2 separate regions of the Homo sapiens genome follow, and region 2 is linked to region 1. The links come from fine-mapping of genetic effects on gene expression. Tissue or cell type: whole blood. Region 1 holds a variant in brackets; the other region holds the start of a gene. All regions are shown on one strand. Distances are from middle to middle.

What was found. PIP is the estimated chance that this variant, and not a neighbour inherited with it, causes the effect.
Region 2: PFKM starts here. The variant in region 1 is fine-mapped to the expression of PFKM in whole blood (TOPMed, PIP above 0.99).

What each region holds. Positions count from the first base shown.
Region 1 is chr12:48,020,683-48,028,787 of GRCh38, forward strand. All of the region lies in intron 2 of LOC105369750 (a long non-coding RNA gene), which reads left to right. It overlaps LOC124902927 (a long non-coding RNA gene), which reads right to left and starts at 1,493. Exons shown (of 2, transcript XR_007063293.1): 1 at 1,283-1,493. RefSeq lists an enhancer at 836-1,827. The variant C/T (reference allele first, on the strand shown) is at 3,681.
Region 2 is chr12:48,114,759-48,122,863 of GRCh38, forward strand. PFKM (phosphofructokinase, muscle) reads left to right here and starts at 4,606. Exons shown (of 23, transcript NM_000289.6): 1 at 4,606-4,648; 2 at 8,009-8,101. The coding sequence starts at 8,017. RefSeq lists an enhancer at 4,202-4,271.

The DNA of each region.
Region 1 (8,105 bases):
GCTGGGATTACAGGCATGAGACACTGTGCCTGGCCTCATTTTGGCTTTTGACTTTGTTTATGATTATTCTTTTTGTTTGCCATGCAAACACTTTTTATTTTTATATGGTCAAATTTATTGTTATTTTATTTTATGGTTTCTGGTTTCATTCATAGATTTTAAATTTTTTTCTCCTGGCTCCTTTAAGTTCTTTTAGGGTTAAATTTTTACATTTAAATTTTTGATCCACATACAATTGATCTCATTTTAAGGTATGAGATATACATCTGAACTTACTGTTTTTTCTCCCAAATGTCTGCCCAGTTGTGCTGGGACATTTATTGAAAATTCTATCTTGGCTGGGTGCAGTGGCTCACACGTGTAATCCCAGCACTTTGGAAGCCCAAGGCAGGCAGATCTCTTGAGGTCAGGTGTTCAAGACCAGCCTGGCCAACATGGCAAAACCCTGTCTCTACTAAAAATACAAAAATTAGCCAGGCGTGGAGGCACACACCTGTAATCCCAGCTACTTGGGAGGCTGAGGCACAAGAATTGCTTGAACCCAGGCGGCAGAGGTCGTGGTGAGCCGAGATCATTCCACTGCATTCCAGCCTGGGTGACAGCAAGAAAAGTCTATCCTAACTGGTTGAAATGCCATCCTTGCTCTACTATAAATTCCAGAGTTTCTTTGTGCCCATCTCAGTACTTCTGTGTCCCCTGCCATGTGTATCCAAGCACCAGCACCACAGTGCCTTTTTTTAGGCTCCATGCAGCTTAACTACAGGTCCCTGGGTCTGCAGACATGGAGATTTGCTGACCCTGAGGTGGGATGAGGAGGTAGGGGAAATAGCAAAAGAGTTGGATATTAAGATCAGAAAGCTTCTGGGCTCTCTCCAAAGAACCCCTAGCATCTAAAATGGCTTTGCTCCTATACCTCCTCTCAAAACAAAAAAAAAAAAAAAAAAAAAAAGAGAACAAAGAAGTCTGTTTCCTTATTCAACAGCTATTTGTCCAGCCTGAAAGAGCCCCTCTAGTCTAACCCTGTGCATGCTGCTGATCCTCTCCCAGAGTGCCTTCCAAGATTATTTCAGGAGCCTAGGAAGGCCCTAAGTGTGGCTTTGATCGCCATATTGGAAATGCTTCCCTCACTGGCTCCCTGGGCTCCAAGCCCAGTACTTGACAGTTGCCTGTAAACTGAGCAGGTCTTTATCTTAAAGACATCACAATGGACCCTAAACAAACACATTAACAACCACTCAGAGACCTAACGCTGGCCAATAAACAAACCCCCAGGAAAGCTTACTCAGAAAAGGTTCCTCCTTCCTGCAGCCCCTGAGGGCAGATCCCGGAGTCCCTCCTTCCTCAGCCTGCAGGCTGCTTTCCAAGGGCTCTCCAGCCCTCCCGGCAGGAATGTAATCATCTGCCCTGCGTGCCCTGCCTTCTCTCACCTTTACCCACAATAACCCAGCATGGTCACAATGCACTCAGTGCATACCTATTGCAAATAAAACAAGAAAGTAAATCTCCTTCAAAGGAACAGCTAATAGCTCCAGGCTACCAAAAACAATGTGTTCTATGGGAGCTAGCGATTACCCTATATACCAAGGGTTTAAATTTAAGGTCTTTAGATGAGCTTCGGAGGTTCCCTGAACCCCTACAATGATTTGCAAAATTTATATGTAGACTTATGAAGGGCATTTTTTCCCTAAGATACCGGGAAGGAGATTCCCTGTATCATCAGAGTTCAATATCAAAAATTTTTTTTAAATCTAGGTATCTATGGATAAAAGGATATGATGTCTAGATTTTGTTTCAAAACATTTCAGTTGGAGGACAAAGAGTGGGTGAAGTAGGTGCAGTTATGGATTAAACAAGATTGGCCATTAGTTGATACTTATTAAAGCTAGTGATGAGTGCTTGGAAATTTATTATATTATTCTGTCAAGAAAGAAGTGGAAGGAAGGAAGAAGAAAAGGAGGGAGTGAGGAAACCTTTTGCTACAGACTACGCTGAAAGAACCAGACAGACCATAGTATACATCTGCTATTCTCATAGTCCTAGCTTTATAGGAACAACTGCCCAGTGGATTGCCTGGTCAGTGTTTGAAAGCCTGGCAAATTTGTGGGTGCAGAGGCATGTTCTTCTCACTCTCACCCCCGCTCTCTATCCTCAGCATCACCCAGAGAGAGGGACCAGAATCCCTGAGGCCATCTTGGTTCATCTGCACCGTCTCTCCTACACCTCTTCACCCCTCCCCTCTCCACTTCACTCCAGGCTGCATTGGGGCGGGGAGGTGATCATCCAAGGCCCTGGCTCTCCATCGAGACCCCAGCCAGGTAGAGCCCCTATTGCCTGAGCAAGCTTGCGCAGGATGGGGCTGGAGCTGCACTATTTGGATCTTCTTGGAGTAGAAAATTCACAAATTCCAACCTCTGCTCCCAAAGCAAACCTCCCCAGCCCAGGTGGCTGCATCCTTCTCCTCCCCTCCCCCCAGTTCCCTGGGTCGCCAAGCCGGAGGCTTTGAAAACCAGCTTGTGTTTGGTTTGTGAAAGCACCAATGTTTGCAATGTTTGCCCAGCAGAGAAGGAGCATATTTTCTCCCTTCCAAATGCAAACTCAAAAGATGCTCCACCAGTTTTTCTTCAGACTTTCCACAGGAAACATAAATAAGAAAGAAAAATGACTTTAGGTGCTGAGACCTGAAATGGAATTTCAACCCTGAAGGAACTGCCTGTAACAAGCACTCTCTGTCCTTCAGTGAAGGCTTCGAGAGCCTAGGTGCATGTTTCTTTCCTCTGAGTAGCCTTCACAGATGAGGCAAGGGGAGGAGCTGAACCAGTTCTTAGACCTGACTCCCAGCTAGATCTTCAGCCCCACACAATGAATGGCCGGTGACTGGCACAGCAGCTGAGATTCCCTGGCTACAGTGTTCTTTTTTATCTTTCTTGATTGTGTTAGGGTAGAACAAATGAGGGTGCTGCAACCCGAGAGGCCCAGCCACACTGCAAGCCAGCACAATCAGAGTGTGAAGTGTGGACACGCCCCCCTGGAACACAAGGCCACAGTTTGCCACCTGCTCTGCCCTTGTCTCCATCTCGGAAGAAGGACATCCCTGATCTGTGGCCTCTGTCCTCACGGATCTTATAATTATCAGACAAACACAACCACAGAGAGGCTGGAAGGCAGTGCTTCAGCATCACACATATATGCATCGGTGACCAGAGTTCTGATTAATCTTAATGCACAGATAATTGGAGCATTTCTTGCTCACAGCTTATAGCCACCAAATGACTGCTTCCAGGTTAGGAGTTTGCAGAATATGTACACACACGGAGCCCTACAAAAGGCTCCAGACCCAAGAAATACAGGGTTGAAGTCAGTGTGGACAGTTCTAATGCAGCTAATACATTCTAACTGATTTGTTGTGAGCTAAGGGTTCAGTGTTTACACTTCAAGGTCACTGTTTCTGTCTCCTGACATCTGAGAACCTTTCTTCTTCTTCTTTTTTTTTTGAGACAGAGTCTTGCCGTGTCATCCAGGCTGGAGTGCAGTGGCATGATCTCGGCTCACTGTAACCTCTGCTTCCCAGGTTCAAGCGATTCTCTTGCCTCAGCCTCCTGAGTAGCTGGGATTATAGGCACCCCCCGCCAGACCTGGCAAATTTTGTATTTTTAGTTTCGCCGTGTTGGCCAGGCTGGTCT[C/T]GAACTCCTGGTCTCAAGTGATCCACCCACCTTAGCCTCCCAAAGTGCTGGGATTACAGGCGTGAGCCACCGCGCCTCACCCAAGAACTTTTCTTCTTAAGGTGTTTTCCTTTCCCATAGCATTCTATCTTTGGATAGGCCCAACGAGGCCATTGAGCATCTACCCTTTTTACAAAACATATTATCAATCTTATAGCCCATATGTTTAGTGATAAGTCAACTAAACAAAGCAAGGGACCCCACTGGAAGGTGCTTGTGGGAAGTGTACCCTTCCATCTAGGACTTCACTTTGATGTACCAAATTCTGAGAAAGACCCCAGAAGCCATTTCCTTCTTGCTGAGGTTTATTTATCTTGTTTATCTGAAGCCAGGGCCAATAACCCAAATGGCTTTCAAATGGCTACAAAAGTGTCTCAGCATTCGATTAATCAGTCCCATCACAGACAAGTCAACTAACCTGCAGACCCACGTGCTGTACTCATAGTCGTTGCTGGTTCTGGCAGGGGTGATCTGGGAGGAGGTATTTCCCGGAGGTGTTTCCGAAGGGAGAGGCACTAGCTGAAGTTGGCTCTGAGATTCGAAGCGGAGGAGGAAAGGGAAGGTGGAGTGCTGATGCTGACAAGGTGAGGAAGAGGAGGAGTAGAGGTTACCAGCGCTCAGAGCATGGGTTTTGGAGGCACACAGATCTGTGCCCAAAGGGCTATCAATGCTCTTCCACTTCATTGCTGAGCAACCTGATGTGTTCATACGTTCCCTGATGTGTAAAAGTGGCACAATACTTGCGTCTACCTTATAAAGTGCCTGCAAGCACTAAGACAAAATGTAGACAGAGCTTAATGCAGTGCCGGACTCAGTCAACAAATAGCAAATGGAAGTCGTTCTCATTAAACAGCGAAAAGGAAGTAAAAAGGAAGACAGAGGAAGACAAAGGGGAGATGGGGAGGGGATGCCGTGGGAGGCTGTGGGTGGGGTGCAGAGGCTGACACTGCAGACAGCAGCCCCTCACCCAGCTCCATCTCTGGGCGCCTGGGACAACACAGCTCTCGGTCCAGACAGGCTGCTCAGATGTTTATTAAGAAACCACCCATAAAAGTTATTGGAAACTTTACATTTGCAGCATGGTCTCTGCACACTGCCGAGCTGCCACGGCTCTCAACAAGGCCTCATTCACGGCCCTAGGCAGCTCACTTGCCTGCCCCCAGCCCCTGGGTCTCAAGCCCACCAGGGTGCCTCCCAGCCCCCGCCCCCAGCCCAAGCCTGGCCTCCTTCCCTCCCTTGGGTCTGAGTGATTTTCTGATTTGCCTTTTCCAAATGTGAAATCTTTGAATGAGGTCACTTCAACTGGAGAGCAAGGGATAGGCCACAAGACAATGTTTCCTAAGTGCAAAGGTCCCTGGGTGATTTTAGGTAGAACTTGGATGAAAGTTTTGCATTCTAATAGTGTTATATATAGTATCTATATTTTAATGTACATGTGTATGTATTTTGGCAGGGACCAAACCTGTAAAACAGATTTATTTTAATAAGTATTGGAGGAAAAGGTAGAATATCAATCCCATGTTACAGAGTTTTCATTTCAAGTAAACTTGAGTAAAGTAAAAGAGAATGAGAAAGTTGACTTAAGGAAACCATAAAAACAATCATAGTCTAGGTGACCCTCAGATCTAGCAAATCGATCTGGGAACACTGCATGTGATCTCAGCCCTCACCTAGAGCTGTCTGGACACAGCAGTCTGATGGACACAATTTTGTTCTACACAGGGAGGTCCTGCCCCGGGCTGGTCAGAGAGGGGGCCTGCTCCTTATCCAGAGAGTTCTAGTGACTTGTCCCGGCTCCCTGGGTCATGGTTCTGCCTGTCCCCTCCAGTCTGCACTTGGCCAGACTTTTCTACTGAGACACTGTCTACAGGCACAGGGCAGCTCCTCAGATCAGCACCCAAGGCCCTTCTCATCCAGCTTTCCTGTCTCTGTCCCTGGTTGGCTTCTCCACCAGGCCCAGTGTACTCAGGGCCAGGACGGCGTGGCTCCTCTCTTTGGTTTCCCCTCTGCTTAGACTGCTCTGCTGACACGATTTGCCCACTGGCCTGACTTGTTCCTGCTCCCCCACCTTCTCCCAGGCTCCCAAACCTCCCCCTCCCTGCAAGTGGGGCAGATAGTACAGCATCATGCTCGAGTTCAGGCTCGAGTTCTAATCTTATAACTACTGCTTGCCAGCTCTGTGTGCTTGAGCCAATTGCTTAACCTCTCTGTTACTCAGTTGCCTCATCTGTTATGGGGGGCAATGGCAGCAACATCTTCCTCCTCCCAGGTTTGTTGGGAGAACTGAATGAACAGACAGTACCAGATTCACAGTAACAGCAAGTACACTGCATGGCTGTGCCTTCATTGGAGTTTAGTTCTTGCCAAGAGCAGCCTTTCAGCACTCATTTTCCAGGGAGTAGGTGCTTGATCTGTTGGCTGATTATGGATGTACCATGAGGTGTTTTCTACATACAATCTCTTGATCCCTGAGCCTGAGAGCTGAGTTTCTTTCCTGGATCTAACAGCCCTGTGGAAAGTTGGAGAGCACTTATTCCTGGGCTATCGCACAGCCGTCTCTTCTCTGGAAGGTCTGGTCTCCAGGGCTCTTCGTGGAGCTCATCTTCCTCTGTCAAGTTTGGCCTAGGAGACGGAATCCTCCAGGAGCAGGCCTGGCTGGGGATGCACATAGACCTTCCCCGGCACAGAAAGGACAGTGCCTGGGGACACTCAAGGCCATCTTCTCTGAAGCCCACCCACGTGGACAGACTAGAGAGAAGCCACTAGCACACACCCAGTGTCTCCTTGTGCCAGACACTAAGTTAGGTGCACCCTACAAGGTCCAGGCCCTGGTCCTTCAGCCGTTGCTCAGGTGGCTACAATGACAGCTCCAGAGCCTGGGGATTGGGGCGAGTTCTCCAGAGCCTGGGGGTTGGGGTGAGTTCTCCAGCCGTCAGCCTGTGGCCACCCTGGAGCATGCTCAGAGGGAGCGGGCTCCAGCCTCCTGCCTTCCCTCGCCCCAGGCCTCAGCCTTTTCTGAAAGAAATGTTGTGTTCCCTCGGCCCTCCCCCCTTGCCACATCCCCTTCCTCCCACAGAGCCCGGGTCCCCCAGGCTACAGTCCAGCAGTCCCTCTGTGAGCAGACTTCCAGTGACACATGGCTTTGTTAGAAACCTCATTAGCAGAGACAGAAAGGCGAGAGGCAGCTCAGAGAGGCATTCCAGGTGTCAGTTAAGAGGGGCCGCAGGAGGAAAAGGCCATTAAACCACAACTAAGGTCAGCCCCCGGTAGAATGAAAAAACAATAAACTGAGACCTTGGAGAGTGGTGGGAAGGTAACTGGGGAATTGAGGGAGGGTACCCCTGCCTCAGGCTGGGGAGGGAAGGCCTTGGGTCCTGGAAGGGACACCAGCTTGTCTTGCCTGATGCTGGGAGTCTCAGAGGCTGTTCTGTGTAAACTCCTGGAGGCAGGGACTGGGCCCCAGGAGACTCTGAACCCCGCGCCCAGCGCACGCTCAGCACACCACAGGCACTGGGCACGCGCCTGATGAATGAGTGGAGATTGAGCCTGGCGCACAGGAGGAGGCTGGAGTGCTTGCCATGCATTAGATGCTGGGCTCGGCACTGCCTGTCTGCAAACTCTTCGTACCCCAAGACGTGAGTATTATTAGCTCCCTTTTAAAGACAAGCAAACGTAGACACTAGAATATGTTATTTTGGGGCTCCCCAGACTCTGGGAATTCACTAGAACTCTACCTATTGATACTTGGAACTTCTGAAACAGACACATTCCTTCATTCCAGAATTAGTCATAAAAAGGCTGAATGAGGCCGGGCGTGGTGGCTCACGCCTGTAATCCCAGCACTTTGGGAAGCTGAGGCAAGCAGATCATGAGGTCAAGAGATGGAGACCATCCTGGGCAACATGGTGAAACCCCGTCTCTACTAAAAATACAAAAATTAGCTGGGCGTGGTGACGTGTGCCTGTAGTCCCAGGTACTCAGGAGGCTGAGGCAGGAGAATTGCTTGAACCCGGGAGGCAGAGGTTGCGGTGAGCCGAGATCGCGCCACTGCACTCCAGCCTGGTGACAGAGCGAGACTCCACCTCAAAAGAAAAAAAAAAAAGGCCGAATGCCTGTGGAGGCTAAGGCAGCACACTGAAACTCACTCCTGAAGGGTCATTAGAATGATTGTCTGGTATCTGGAATTCCCTGGCCTGTCAAGGATGATGGGGGCTGCCCTGAGCTGGGGAACATGCTCGGCTGAGGGAGGTGGAGGACAGTGGCAGGCCTGTGTGCACTCCCAGCGTTGCCTCAGTGAGCTGTTTGCCTTCACTGGGCAGGGACCCACAAGGGTCATGTATTTTTGTCATGCCTGACGGGGAATGCACATGATTTATGAAGTTTTTT
Region 2 (8,105 bases), 94 kb after region 1:
CCCATTTTTTCAACAAAAATTATCTAGGTCTCGTAGGATGGAGAAATCAAAAGTGCCGTTTTCTGGCCATTTAGAACCATTGTCGAGTTTGTATTGGTGCAAAGCGGTGTTGCAGAAGAAAATGAGATGCCTAGATTTTAGGTCAGGTGAGAGTTGAAGAGGTTTTAAGTTCTTGAGAACACAGGCTAAGGCAGAAGAAGGAGGAATGGAGGGTGGAAGGTTGCCCATAGTAAAGGAGGCAAGTTTAAAGAGAAGAGTAGAGTCATGGAGAAGGGGGATGGGGAGCAGCTCTGGGCTGCAATGTGGGTGAGCAGCCAAAGCAGGCATCCCTGCAATTGACTTGCCACCAAGGGAACACGGGTGAATGATCAAGGCAGGCGTCCCTGTGGAGATCAGACACCAATGGAACATGGGTGAATAATCAGAGAGGCATCCCCACGATAATTAAACACCAAGGGAAGGCTGCTGACCCGGGTCTTCGGCACCAAATGTTTCACGTGTCCATGTGAAGAGATCACCAAACAGGCTTTGTGTGAGCAACGAGGCTGTTTATTTCACCTAGGTGCAGGTGGGCTGAGTCCGAAAAAGGAGTCTGCAAAGGGTGGTGGATTATCATTAGTTCTTATAGGTTTTAGGATAGGCGGTGGAGTTAAGAGCAATGTTTTGAGGGAAGGGGGTGGATCTCACAAAGTACGTTCTCAAGGATGGGGAGAATTACAAAGAACCTTCTTAAAGGTGGGGGAGATTACAAAGTACATTGATCAGTTAAGGTGGGGCAGAAACAAATCACAATGGTGGAATGTCGTCAGTTAAGGCTATTTTCACTTTTGTAGATCTTCAGTTGCTTCAGGCCATCTGGATGTATACGTGCAGGTCACTGGGGATATGATGGCTTAGCTTGGGCTCAGAGGCCTGACAGCCTGACCATCTTGGGCACATGTTCTCAGGATCTCCTGAGGGCTGTATCACAGGCCATTGGTCACTCATATTTGGCTCAGAATAAATATCTTCAAATATTTTACAAATTTTGACACTTTTTGTCATATTTATATGACACATTTTATTTATCCATTCTTTAGTTGATGGACTTTGGGCTCTTTCCACATTTTGCCAACATTGTGAATAATGTTGCTATGAACATTGGTATACAGATTTTGTGTGTACATATGTTTTCATTTTTCGTAGGTATATACCTAGGAGTGGAATTGCTAATTAATATGATGACTCTATGTTTAACATTTGAGGAACTGCCAAATTTCCACTGCAGCTGCACCACTTTACATTCCTACCAGCAATGCAGAAGGGTTCCAATTTGTTCACATCCGCTGTAATACTTTTCTTTCTTTTTCCTTTCCCCCCTTCCCTCCCTTCCTTCCTTCCTTCCTCTCTCTCTCCCTCACTCCCTGCCTCCTTCCTTTCTTCCTCTCCCTCTCTCCTTCCCTCCTTCCTTCTTTTCTCCTTCCTTCCTTCCTTCCCTCCCCCTCTCCCTCCTTTCTCTCTCTCCACCCCTCCCTACCTCCTTCCTTCCATCTTCCTTCCTTTCTTTTTTTCTTTTTTGATAATAGCCATCCTAATGGATATGAAGTAGTATTTTCACTTCAAATGAAGTAGTTTTGATTTGCATTGCCCTAATGGCTATTGATGTTGAGCATCTTTTCTTGTACTTTTTAGCCATTATATATCATTTTTAGAGAACTGTCTATTCAAGCCTTTGCTCATTTTTAAATTTTTTATGTTTGAGACAGGATCTCACTCTGTCGCCCAGGGTGGAGTGTGGTGGCGCAATCTCGGCTCACTGCAAGCTCTGCCTCCCAGGCTCAAGTCATTCTTGTGCCTCAACCTCCTGAGTAGCTGGGACTACAGGCATGTGCCACCACACCTGGCTAATTTTTTGTATTTTTGTAGAGACGGGGTTTCACCATGTTGCCCAGTCTGGTCTTAAATTCCGGAGCTCAAACAATCCACCTGCCTTGGCCTCCCAAAGTGCTGGGATTACAGGTGTGAGCCATTGTGCCTGGCCAGTTTTCCCTACTTATTAACATCTTGCATTAGTGTGGTACACTTGTGATAATTGATAACCCAATATTTATACATTATTATTAGCTAAGTTCCATAGTTTACATTAGGGTTTACTCTTTGGATTGTATAGTTCTATGAATTTGACAAATGCATAATGTCATGACAAATGTATGTCATGTATCTGTTATAGCATCATACCGAATCATTTTAGTGCCCCTAAAATCCCCTGTGCTCCACCTATTAATCTCTCCTTCTCTATCCCAAGCCCCAGTAACAACTGATATTTTTATTGTCTCCGTAGTTTTACCTTTTCCAGACTGTCATACAGTTGGAATCATACAGTATGCAGCCTTTTCACACTGGCCCGTTTCACTATGTCTTTTCCTGGCTTGATAATTTTTTATTGATGGAAAATATTCCATTGTATAGCTGTATCACAGTTTGTTTATTCACCTTTTGAGGGACATCTTGGTTGCCTCCAGCTTTTGGCAATTATGAATAAAGCTTTTATAAACATTCATGTGCAGGTTTTTTGTGCAGACATAATTTTCAGCTCATTCAGCTAAATACTTAGGAGTGCTATTGCTGGATCATGTGGTAAGACAATATTTAGCTTTGTAAAAAACTGTCAAACTGTCTTCTACAGTGACTGTACCATTGTGCATTCCCACCAGCAATTAATGAGAGTTCCAGTGGTTCCACATTCTCATTAGCATTTGGATTTTTGAATTTTAATCATTTAATCATTCTAATAGGTGTGTAGTGGTGTCTCACTGTTTTAATTTGCAGTTCGCTAATGACATATGATGTTGACATCTTTTCATGTTTATTTGCCACCTGTATATCTTCTTTGGTCAACTCTTTTGCCCATTTTTAAATTGAGGTATTTTCTTTTTATTGTCACTGAAAAGAGTCAAACTGTAAAACATTTGAAGAGATTTATCCTGAGCCAAATACGAGTGACCAATAGCTCCCCCATGACACAGCCCTCAGGAGATCCTGAGAACATGTGTTCAAGATGGTCGGGCCACAAGTTGGTTTTATAAATTTTAGGGAGATATAAGGTATCAATGAATATATGTAAGATGTACATTCATTTAGTCCAGAAAGGCGGGATAACTGGAAGCAGGGAGGGGGGAGCGGGGCTTCCAGGTCATAGGTAGATTCAAAGATTTTCTGATTGGAAATTGGTGAAAAGAGTTAAGTTATTGTCCAAAGACTTAATAGAAAAGCAATCTGTGAGGACCAAGGTTTTATCAGGTGGACAAAGCTTCCAGGTAGCAGGTTTCAGAGAATAGATTGTAAATGTTTCTTATCAGACTTAAAGAGTCTGTTCTATCAGTAATTCCAAAAGGGAGGAGCATATAATGAAGTGTGTCTGGCTTCCCCTTTCCATCAACGTCTGAACTAGTTTTTCAGATTAACTTTGGAATACCCTTGACTGAGAGGAGGGGTCTATTCAGATGGTTGAGGGGCTTATAATTTTATTTTTGGTTTACATTCTTAATGAGTTGCAAATGAGTTCTTTATTTATTCTGGATGCCAGCCCCTTATCAGATACATGATTTGCAAATATTTTCTCCCATTCTGTGGGTTGTCTTTCCACTTTCTTGATGGTATAATTTGGAGAACAAATGCTTTTATTTTGTGTAGTCAAATGGGGTTTTATCTCCTAGTCACTTGCATTTGTATTGTTTGTGCCAGAATGTGCAGAGGTAGAGATACAAGTAAGCAAGAGGAAGAGGGCAGTGGTAAAAGCAAGAGGAGACCCGACTGTGGAGACAATGAAGCAAAGGGAAGGTGAGACTTGAGTAATGGATGCACCTCTTGCTCTGGGAGCATCTGACCCTTTTTCCAGAGTGGATCCTGTTTGCTGTGAAGCCCAATTTATATGTTTGCTTCACTGCCAGAATCCCGCCCCCATCCCTCCCCACTGCAGGCTTGAGAAGTGGCCTCACAGACACGCCCTTCCCTCTTGACACTTTCATTCCAAATAGCTAGCTTTTCTGTACTTTCTCTGAGAAAGGTAATGTAAATGTAAAAGAAGTTTTTGAGGCTATTCTATAGAAGATGTCATAATTCAATGTTCCTCAAAGGCAGGGACTATATTTATTTTTTTTAAACCTCTCGGCACCTAATGCAAAATCTAGCACACAGACTCCCAAGAAATGTTTGCTTAAAGACGGATAGAGGGCCACAGGGGCAGGTTTTATTAGCAGTTGCTGAAGATGTTGGAATGCAAGGTGTCTCAGGCAGTCTGGACTAGGAAAAAGTTCTGTGTTGAAAACAAGAGAAGCAACGAAATAATTTATTATTCCCATTAAATAAAGATGCTGATGGCTCTCGAGATAGATATGAGGACCCCAGGACTCTGGGGAGTGAAGGAACTAAGCCGCTGCCATATCTGAGCTGAGTACTTAGGGGGAGGAGGAAGAGGAGGAGAAAGGCAAGCAGGAGGAGGCGGAGCCTTCTTGTCAGCATCTGTTAGTGGAGGTTGGGAAGCCTCTCCTCCTTCCCCCTCCCTCTTTGCCTCCACCTGGCTCCTCCCCATGTTCGTCCATCACCCCTCCCCCCTTTCCCAAGGACAATCTGCAAGAAAGCAGCGGCGGAGGAGAGCTAAGACTAAAAGGCAAGAGGGGCCATTGAGTGAAGAGCAAGGGGGAGAGCTGGGAGTGAGGTGGGAAGGTATGGGCCGGGAGCAGGCGGTAGGGAGAACTGAAAGGAGCAGAAAGGAAAAGAAGAGATACGGCATCCTAAGCTGGAGCCGAGAGGGGGATGGGCAGGGCAGTCGTGAAGGATCCTAGCCCCTTGGCCAGTCCCCTCCGCTTGCAGGCTCAGCTGCATTCCCCAGGAATCTGGGATGGGTGGGTGGGGCTCGGACGGGTTGCCCTTGGCTGCCTGACCCTACCCTGGCACTCACCCAATTCAAATCAGTGCTCCTATGATGCTGCTTTTCTGTTCCTCCCTGCCGCGTGCTTATATACGCACGTGATTTTAGAGATATGTTTTAATATCTGTCTGTTTTTGTCTACGTGCGTGTCATTGTGGGTCTGTAAGGGATGCTTATACATGAGTCTGCATGAATTTCTGTGTCCTGTGCCTCTATAACTGTCTTAGAGATTTCAGGAGAAGAATATGAGCGGTTTTTACAGGTCAGCACTCTTAAACTCCTCTTGTTATGGCGAATTTTCTCCCTCACTGACGCTTCCAGGGGTGGAAGAGCTCTGTGTGGGATTCTGCCCCCGTCATGAGCTCCAAGAGTGAATGAGAAGAAAAAACGGGAGGAAAGGGATCAGCATACCCAGATGTCTTGTTTTTTCCTTTCCACCTTTTTGCCTTCCTATTTGCCCTAGTCACTTAATCTTTCTTTTTGGAAAACAGCAGAAATTTGGACATGAACATTCCAGTTAAATAAGAGCGTCTCTAGTCACGCGTGTCTCTATGTTCCTTTCACTGTTTGTCACTATATGATTTCTCAAGTCCAAGTTAAAAGTGTGTTTTAAAGTAGAATATGGAGGTATATCTGTATCTAAGCCGATTTTACATTTTTCATATATTTGTATTTCATGTAGTTCATCAGTTCATTAACGTTTTCAACAAGTATTTATTGGGGTCCTGTAATGTGCATAGACTTTGCAAGTCTTTAGTGAGCTGTGGGAGAGTTTTTAAAAATGATCATGATCCCTGCCCTGGAGGAGTTCTCAGTCTAGTTAGGAAAAATGACTTTAGCAGCCATCCAGTCCAGTGGTTGGCAAACTTCGTCTGTAAAAGACCAGATAGTAAATATTTTAAACTGCAGGCTTATGAGTCTCTGTCACAATATCCATTCTGCTGTTGTAGCACAAAAACATCCATGATAATACGTGAATGAACGAAGGTAGTGCACATACTGAAATTTGAACTTAACATTTTTCACATGTCATGAAGTACTTTTTGCAACCACTAAAAAATATAAAAACCTTTCACAGCTTACTGCCATACAAAAATGTGAGAAGGGCTGGATTTGGCCTACAGGCTGTTGTATGCTGACCCCTGATCTAGTCCAACCCTCTTATCAGTGCGTACGAAACTATTAAAATGCCACATAAAGCAGGCCGAGCATGGTGGTTTATGCCTGTTATCCCAGCACTTTGGGAGGCAAGGTGGGCGGATCACCTGAAGTCAGGAGTTCAAGACCAGCTTGACCGACATGGTGAAAACCCGTCTCAATTAAAAATACAAAAATTAGCCGGGTGTGGTGGTGCATGTCTGTAATCCCAGCTACTCGGGAGGCTGAGGCAGGAGAATCACTTGAACCTGGGAGGCAGTGATCCAGTTTAGACAACATGTGGTTAGAGGAAGTCCAAAAGAAGGTTTCCTTGACCTGTGGTAATCAGTGAAGGTTTAATAAGGGTACAACTATCACTGGTCTTAAATGATGGAATGGGATGTGAATCTGTGGAAAGGGCCAGGGTAGCCACCTGGACAAGGGATGCAGTGTGCCCAGGCACTAAAGTGGGAAGAGCAAAGTAATGTTCAGGTGACAATGGAGCAGAGAATCTATAGGACCAACAGTTGAAGCTATATGCAAGGGCTAAATTGTAGAAGCTTCGAATGCCAACCCAACAAGTTGGGACCTTATTTGTTAGTACTGATTATATGTAGTACGTTCATTAATCTCTGTCTGTTAACACAATGCATGTTTGTGAATGTATGTCTTCATATATGTCTCATTGCATTATTTTATTATTTGTGTGGATTTGGGTGTTTATGTGACTTATGTCTCTATAGGCAGCTACCCTGAGTTCTCCAAATGCAGGGTAGAAGCAAGCACAAGCTGCCCGTAAAACTTGGGTTCCTGTGAATGAATACACATCTCCACTGAAGCCTAGGGACCTATGACCTTCCTATGAAGGTTTATTTTGTGTGTCTAATAGAGTGAAGAAAGGAACACAAGCACAGGGAAACCAGCTATTGTAGTAAGCAGTTCAGGTGGAAAATGGCAATGAGGATAGAAAGGAGGGGATGGATAAAGGAAGATAATAAGAAGGGAGAATAATAGGATTTAGTTACTGTTTTGAATCTGAGAGGAAGGGAGGAGATAAATTTAAAATAACAGGTTTTAGCCTGAAAAACTGGGAGAGTGATAATTCTACTGGCATTTTATGGATACAAAAATACGTCCTCTTGTGTGTTCCTTTGAGAGAGGTGATCCCTAAAGAATAAAATATGAAGGTGTTCCCATGTCGTATGTACACATCTGTGTATATACGGCAGTGACTTTGTGTTAATTTTCTCATTTCATAGCATGTAGTAATGTGAGGGGCAAGACCCAAAGACCAAGGATCAAGAGATGCTCAGGAGGCTGACATCCTGAGAGGGAAGAGCCATAGAAAGCCCCTGACCATTCTTGAGACTGACACCATTAATTTGCCTAACTCTGATGTGCCTTTATAGCCTCAGACTCCAGTTTCAACTCCATATCACCTAACCCCATTCCAATAGCACAATTCCATAACACCCAACCCTAATCTTAATTATAATCCAACCTACCCTTGCTCTTCTACTTCTACTTTGCTGATTGTCATCAGTGCCCTAAACCTCATCTGATTCCAGCCCTCTGCAATAACCTATCCCTTCATTGAAAAGGGAGGGATCGTTGAGGCTAACTCAACTTTTTCTCCTCCCTTTCTCATTTCTATTCAGTCAACTTCTCTTTTCCCTGACCTTAGTTTATTCCCCAAATAGGTTCCAATTGGGGTGGGAGGGATCAGGGAGGAATTAGGACCTTAGTAGTCTTGGGCTTGATTACATGACATTTCAGCTTGTCAGTCTACAAGGGTGTGGCTTTCCTCTGGAAGAAGTCCAAAGCTCTCAGGCTGCAAAGCTCAGACTTGGTATAGTGGGAGAGCCTGACTGAGGTGGCTCTAGCCAGTCTAATTGCCGTTCCTTTAGCTAGTGGCATCTTGATTCCTGCTGTGTCTTAACTGACCATTGTCTTAAATTCTAGAGTGGATCATGACCCATGAAGAGCACCATGCAGCCAAAACCCTGGGGATTGGCAAAGCCATTGCTGTCTTAACCTCTGGTGGAGATGCCCAAGGTAA